Linked DNA regions of Homo sapiens. The protein of the gene in region 2 purifies or fractionates together with the protein of the main gene of each other region. This does not show direct contact. Each region holds a gene or a part of one and is shown on either strand. Other genes may lie near its edges. The genes, in order: SNX8 and TMEM47.

Region 1 (4,341 bases), on a different chromosome or scaffold from region 2:
CTCAGCCTCCCCAAGTGCTGTGATTTCAGACGTGAGCCACAGTGCTTGGTCTCAAGGCTGAGGTTTTCTCACTCCAGCCCACCCAATCAGGGTCCCCATCAACACACATTCCCTTGACATTGCCCACTTTGGGCAAATTACTTACCTCTGGATTTTAGTTTTCTCAATGTAAAAAGACCTGCGAGGCCGGGCGCGGTGGCTCACGCCTGTAATCCCAGCACTTTGGGAGGCCGAGGCGGCTAGATCACGAGGTCAGGAGATCGAGACCATCCTGGCTAACATGGTGAAACCCCGTCTCTACTAAAAATACAAAAAATTAGCCGGGCGTGGTGGCGGGCGCCTGTAGTCCCAGCTACTCGGGAGGCTGAGGCAGGAGAATGGCATGAACCCGGGAGGCAGAGCTTGCAGTGAGCCGAGATCACACCACTGCACTCCAGCCTGGGCGACAGAGCGAGACTCCGTCTCAAGAAAAAAAAAAAAAGACCTGCTATACCACTTCACCCACCTGCCAGGATGACGACCAAGTTTCAAACAGAAGGACAGTCTACGTCCCAAGAGTCTGTGAGCCCCACTTTCAGACTTGCCTGGTTACAGGAAAGGGCACTGTGAAGCACTGCCTTGTCCCAGCAACCCCCATCTGTGGATCCCATCAGCACTCCTGATGAAATCACCACTGCCCCCAGAAAAAGCCAACTACCTACAGGAATTCCAGGCCACACCAAAGGGAGGGCGGTCTCCCAGAGACACAGCTCCCTCAGGTGTACAGCGCTCAGACTATCTCTAAATTACACCATTATGGTAGCCTCTGGAGTCTACTTCTGTGAAGCCTGAAGGAAACACAGTCCCCTACACCTGCAGAGGACCCCTCCAGCAATGCCAAATTGCTTTACAAGCTGAGATAGCAGCAGCATTCCGATCCAATCACAGCCTACCTGTTCCCAAGTGACCCCTCGGAAAGGGTCCCGCCTGAGACTCACGCTGGCCTCCAACATGTGACTTCATGGACACAATGTTCTAATCAGCGAGAACTATCACGTGCCTCCCCTTACACTGATACAAGGGAAAGGAAAAAATAACTGAAGACCCATTCTGAAAGGCCCTTCTTTCTAGACACAGTCTTCACATCGAGGATGCCCACCAAATGCAACAATCCCTCCCCTGCTCCCCGCTGCCGTTTCTCGCCGACGAAGAAACTGTCTACCAACCCTCCAGAGCTCACTTCAGTCATCACCTCCTCAGCGACACCTTGCCAGACCTCCCCACAAGGGGATTCCCCAATCTTGTCCCCCCCCACCAAGAAGAAACCGTAACTCACACCAACACCCACCTACATCTCTTCTCTGGCAGCTAGGACCACAGGAAGGAACATCCAGAAATAAGGGGCACCCTCCTGTATTCCTTCTAATGTTTAGCCTCGTTTGTTTTGTTTTGTTTTGTTTTTTTTGAGGCGGAGTCTCGCTCTGTCGCCCAGGCTGGAGTGCAGTGGCGCTATCTCGGCTCACTACAAGCTCTGCCTCCCGGGTTCACGCCATTCTCCTGCCTCAGCCTCCCGAGTAGCTGGGACTACAGGCGCCCGCCACCGCGCCTGGCTAATTTTTTTTGTATTTTTAGTAGAGACAGGGTTTCACCGTGTTAGCCAGGATGGTCTTGATCTCCTGACCTCGTGATCCGCCCGCCTCGGCCTCCCAAAGTGCTGAGATTACAAGCGTGAGCCACCGTGCCCAGCCATGTTTAGCCTCATTAACCCAAATCCCTTAAAGAGAAATACAAGAGGCCAGGCGCGGTGGCTCACGCCTGTAATCCCAGCACTCTGGGAAGCTGAGGTGGTTGGATCACCTGAGGTCAGGAGTTCGAGACCAGCCTGGCCAACATGGTGAAACTCCGTCTCTACTAAAAATACAAAATTTAGCCGAGTGTCATGGTGGATGCCTGTAATCCCAGCTACTCAGGAGGCTGAGGCAGGAGAATCGCTTGAACCCGGGAGGCGGAGGTTGCAATGAGCCGAGATCGCACCATTGCACTCCAGCCTGAGTGACAGTGAGAATCTGTCTCAAAAAAAAAAAAAAAAGAAAAGAAAAGAAAAAGAAAAAAGAAAAAGACAGAAATACAGGCCAGGCACGATGGCTCATGCCCGTACTCCCAGCACTTTGGGAGGCCAAGGCAGGAGGACCGCTTGAGGCCAGAAGCTCCAGACCAGCCTGGACAACATAGCAAGATCCCATCTCTACAAAAATAAAAAAAATTACCGGGCGTAACTGCACGCGCCCGTAGTCCCAGCACTTTGGGAGGCTAAGGCGGAGGATCACTTGAAAGAGAGAGAAAAGCAGCTACACATCTATAGATTCGGTTCACAGATGAGAAAACAGAGGTCCCGAGAGGTGAAATTACTGGCCCAAGACCACACAACCGACAGGAGCTTGGGAGAGAGGATGTGGCTAGGAAAGGCGCCCAAGTCCGGGGAAGTGGCCCCCAGTGCCATCGCTCAGCGTGACCAGGCAGGGCAGAAGAGCAGGGCACCAGGAACGGGGCGAGGAGGAAACTGTCCCCGAGGACGCCTCTGAGAGCCCCGGGAAAGCGCCTCGGAACGCGGCCAGCTGTAACCTGGACAGGGCTCTCCCGGCGCAGGAGGGCAGGGGACCCCGAGGGACGGAGGCGCGAGAGAGCACGGGGACCCCCAAAGGACAGGCGCGCAGGAGGGCAGGGGGACCTCCGAGGGACTGGGGCGTGGGGCCGAACGCGGGGCGCGGGGGCAGGAAACGAGTCGGGGACCAAGCGCGGCGGCTGAGCCCCGTCCGCCGGGGGTGGTCGGGCCGCGCGCCCTGGGCAGGTGGGGGCTACCGCCGCCCCACGCCCTACCTGACGCCGGGGGATCCGCCTCCTCGTCAGCCTCCGCCTCAGCTGCCGCCCCGACTGCAGCCGCGGGCAGCGGGTCCATCGCGCGGCCAGTCATGTGAGCCCGCGCTCCCACGTGACTTCCTCCCGCGCCACCCGGCCGCGCAGCCCTGCCGCGCCGCGCCCTCGCCCCGCCCACACCCCGCCTGGTCACGCCCCCTCCCCCGCGCGCCACGCCCACAGTCCGCCCCTGCGGGCCCGCCGCGCTCCTCGCCCGGCCTCGCCACGCCTACAACCCGCCTAGCCACGCCCACATGCCCCTCCCCGTCCACGTGGACACGGAGCCTGCTGGTGGCGCAGGTTACCTCCCCTCAGGTTGGACCTCCGGACTCGCAGGTGCACTACCTCAGGCGCAAGCCTGCACCCACCGCACCCTCATTCACTCCCATCTCTCCTCGCCCAGTCACGCCCTTGTTCGCTCATTCACCGGTTACACTGGGGTTTTCTGACTCGCACTTCCTCATTCATCCACTCACCCACTCATTCGCTCACCCACGCACTGCATCCTGCATTCATTCATTCACCCACTCACTCACTGCATCCTACATTCATTCATCCACTCACACACTCACTCACCGCATCCTGCATTCATCCAGCCACTCACTCACTCACTGCATCCTGCAATCATTCACCCACTCACTCACTGCATCCTGCATTCATTCATTCACCCACTCACTCACTGCATCCTGCATTCATTCATTCACCCACTCACTCACTGCATCCTACATTCATTCATCCACTCACACACTCACCGCATCCTGCATTCATCCAGCCACTCACTCACTGCATCCTGCATTCATTCATCCAGCCACTCACTCACTGCATCCTGCATTCATTCATTCACCCACTCACTCACTGCATCCTGCATTCATTCATTCACCCACTCACGCACTGCATCCTGCATTCATTCACCCACTCACCCACTCACTCACTGCATCCTGCATTCATTCATTCACCCACTCACCCACTCACTCTCTGCATCCTGCATTCACTCATTCACTCACTTATTGCATCCTGCATTCATTCACCCACTCACCCACTCACTCACTGCATCCTGCATTCATTCATCCACCCACTCACTCATGCACTGCATCCTGCATTCATTCATCCATTCACTCACTCACTCACTTACTGCTTCTTCATACGTTCATTCACCCACTCACTCACTGCATCCTGCATTCATTCATCCACCCACTCACTCATGCACTGCATCCTGCATTCATTCATCCATTCACTCACTCACTCACTTACTGCTTCTTCGTACATTCATTCACCCACTCACGCACTGCATCCTGCATTCATTCATTCACCAACCCACTCACTGCATTCTGCATTCATTCAGTCACTCACTCACTGCATCCTGCATTCATTCATTCACCCACTCACTCACTTACTGCATCCTACATTCATTCATTCACTCACTGCATCCTGCATTCATTCATTCACCCA
Region 2 (3,668 bases):
CTGTGATGGGAGTTTTGCAGTGCCTATGCCTTTCACGTGGGAATGCTCAGTCCCCACTATGTTGTTCTGCACCCCCAATTCATTCAGATCTGTGCTCAATATCTCCTCCTCAGAGCAGCCTTCTCTCACGATTGATCTAAAAGAGCAGCCCTCATCCCTGTGTTCTGTCTGCTTTCTTGCATTTCTTGTCTCTTAGCAATATGTGACATTATATTCTATATTTGTTTACTAATGGACTGACTACCCATGAGAGTAGCAGCTTTGTCTCTTTTGATAGCATAATGCCTTAAACTGTATCGCTTTAGAAACATTCAGATATTTATTGAATGGATGCATTTATTGAATGAGTAAATGAATTACTATACCTAACCCACATTCTTGTTTCAGTCATATCCTGGTAGGATCAGTACAGATTTGACGAGTGAACAGAGTATAGAAACCTAAGGAGAAGTGCCTTTTTTTTTTCAAATGTACTTGGCAACTTTGGAATTTTCTTCTCTGTAGTTATGGTTGATAGTAATTGACTTCTTGTTAGTTTTAAGACATTTAAAACATGAAAGCTCCCTTTTCCTCACAAAGGCAAAGAGCCAACTGGGCTTTTTTTAAAATTAATGCACATTTTAGCACTTACTAACTGGAAATAGATGAAGTGTGGGTCATACAATATGCCGTCAGCTGAGTCCTAACAACAACCAAAACCTTTTCTGAGAAGGTCTGATTTCTATTTTGGATATCAGTAGGGTATCCTCTTATACAAACTTACTTGTGTATCCACTCTCAGTAGTAATGGTAGGCAAAGTGCTGACTCAGCAGTGTTGTGCTACACGGCAGAAATGTTGGGTGTTTTTATATCTAGTTCTAGGTCGGTCCTTTGACACCTAGCCAGAGCCTTATAGAAAGAAATTTTGAGGAATCATTTCCTCATGAATTTGCTGTATTTCATCAGTTTTATGGGAGAGAAAGATGACTGTTATGTAGACTTTCTAGGAATCTTCATCATACTGGTAATAATCTTTTACATGGGCTAAAAATAGATGAGAGTACATTTTAAAACATAAAATTCCATTTTAATTAAACACTCTATCCATCCTAGTGTTCTTTTTTAAAACATATAAGCGATATCAAAACTATTTATGTATATAGTTTTACTATGTCAGTTTGTTCCCTCCTTTTCTTTAATTATTCACATTTTTGTTCTTTTCAGATGAATTAAACAAAAATTATTTTACCCCCTAAAATTATTTCATATATCAGAGGTTAGCAAACTTTTTTTGTTAAGGGCAAGAAAGTAAATACTTTTGGCTTTGTGAGCTGTGTGGTTTCTTTTGCAGCTTCTCAACTCTGCCATTGTTGCATAGAAAATACGTAAATGAATGAGTGTGGCTGTGTTCCAGTAAAACTTTTTCAAAAACAAAAAGCAGACCAGATTTGGTAGTTTGCCAACCCCTGTTAAATATAACTGTACTCTGTATTTTTTAGGGAAAAAGATTGTCTATTTCTTGAGGGTGGAAGCTGTCCTATGGTAGAGAATGAAGCTGTAGTTAACTAATTGTAGTTAAACTAATTAAAATAAAATTACATAATAATTGATCTAATAGGAAGTTAAGAATTTTAAGTGGAAGACATTATGTCTTGTGCATATCCACAACATAAATTTCATTTTATTTTAGATAGTAGAAACAACACAAAACAAAACAAAAACAAAATAAACATTCCCTTCCTGATTATTTTGGTTTATTTTATTCGGTATGACTAATCATATTTCCCCTTTGGCCCTGACAGAAGTAGGATCTAACCAGGGACTAAGAGCTAAGTTTTGACCTCTGTTACAGTAGCCATAATTGGCCTAGGTTTTCCTGTACCATTATCTCTCTTGCCTTTATCGACTTAATTCTTTTTTGAAAGTAGGTGGAAAACAGATATGAAAATATCATCTGTTAATAACTTTTAAGCCACTTTTTAAAGACAAGAGGCATAGAGTGGATGAGAAGAAAATAATGAAAGTAGCTTTGGATCAGAGTAATGTAAGCAAAGACATCATGGTGAGACTTTCTGGCATATTGGGCTGAGTTAGTATTGCAAAGCAGCAACAACATCAAAAGCACATTATCACTCACAGGATGACCAGTTGCATCAGTAGAAATTAATTTGAATTTCCTAATTCCTTAATAGCATAAATAAATAACAAGAGTTTCAGTTGGCATTGGGGTCACTATTCTTTTTTTTTTTTTTTTTTTTTTTTTTTTTTTTGAGACAGAGTCTGGCTCTGTCGCCCAGGCTGGAGTGCAGTGGCATGATCTCAGCTCACTGCAACCTCCCCCTCCCTGGTTCAAGCGATTTTCCAGCCTTAGCCTCCTGAGTAGCTGGGATTACAGGTGCACACCACCACACTGGGCTAATTTTTGTATTTTTAGTAGATACGGGGTTTCACCATGTTGGTCAGACTGGTCTCGAACTCCTGACCTCATGATCCACCTGCCTGGGCCTCCCAAAGTGCTGGATTTACAGGCGTGAGCCACCGCACCTGGCTGGGGTCACTATTCTTGAGGAGCTACTTATACGGTTTATTAGTGGCACAATTTAGTTTAACTAGTACTACTTGCCATAATAATAATGATAATTATATTTTTAAGGTGAAAATCACTACTTTGTATGCTCATATAAATTATTATATTGCACTAATTATTTTATCTATACTAATAATGATTTACTAATTAATAGGATAATTCTTATATATTGGGAAAAGGTATTTAAACAAAAAAATTATTAGTATTTTAAAGTATACCATCTAGAACAAGCCATCTTTAAAATTTTTGGCTTTTATGTATATTTGATTACAAAGTTACTCTCATACATATATAGTTACATATTTATATTATTTTATTTGCTGCAAATAACATTTTCTAATTTTGATTTGCTTTTCTTTCAGTTGTTTTACAGGTTTGCAGCCTGGTCCTTTACCCAATCAAGTTCATTGAAACTGTGAGCTTGAAAATTTACCATGAGTTCAACTGGGGTTATGGCCTGGCCTGGGGTGCAACTATATTTTCGTTTGGGGGTGCCATCCTTTATTGCCTGAACCCTAAGAACTATGAAGACTACTACTAGAACCAATAGTCTCAAAGTAAAAACAACCACCACCATCCAACAAAAGGATTACGTCTGCATCTTTTCTAACTTACTATTTTCTAAAACACTTGTGGAGCATCAAGCAGTTTGCTCAGTTGATTTAATCTTTTTTGCCTTTTGGCTGTCAACATCATAACCAGCTTTTACATCCATTTTAGAAATCTGCACAAATTAAGAGAGCTGATTAGACATAGGCAAATGCTGCAAACTTCCAATATGTTCATATCGTTTTTCTTGACAAATGAAGGGTCTATATGACAGCAACCATTGTGAGAAACTAGTTGGAATGAGATTTGCCTCAATCTCCTATTGCCTGCAGGGGAGCAGTTGGCATAAGCAACATTTAGAAGTTCCTTTGCGCTGACAAGGATTCCACTGTTAGAGCCCTTACCGCCTGCTTATCCTACCCAATGACTACATTGGCTGTTGGTTATTTGCTTGAGTGAGCCCTTGAAAAATGAACTGCCCTTCAGCATCTAATGGGAGTTGTGAATGTAACTGGTTAATGATACACATTCCACCTTCAGGAACACTCTTTT

What was found.
Region 1: the proteins of TMEM47 (region 2) and SNX8 purify together in Homo sapiens (affinity purification with mass spectrometry; one large-scale study listed by BioGRID and IntAct). This does not show direct contact.

Annotation. Positions count from the first base shown.
Region 1 is NC_000007.14:2,311,472-2,315,812, forward strand, and holds the start of SNX8 (sorting nexin-8), read right to left. Parts: upstream 2,971-4,341; 5' UTR 2,951-2,970; coding exon 2,857-2,950; intron 1,200-2,856; exon of another isoform or gene 1,003-1,199; coding exon of another isoform or gene 933-1,002; intron 1-932. UniProt on the Homo sapiens protein: May be involved in several stages of intracellular trafficking. May play a role in intracellular protein transport from early endosomes to the trans-Golgi network.
Region 2 is NC_000023.11:34,629,753-34,633,420, reverse strand, and holds part of TMEM47 (transmembrane protein 47), read left to right. Parts: intron 1-2,929; coding exon 2,930-3,108; 3' UTR 3,109-3,668. UniProt on the Homo sapiens protein: Regulates cell junction organization in epithelial cells. May play a role in the transition from adherens junction to tight junction assembly.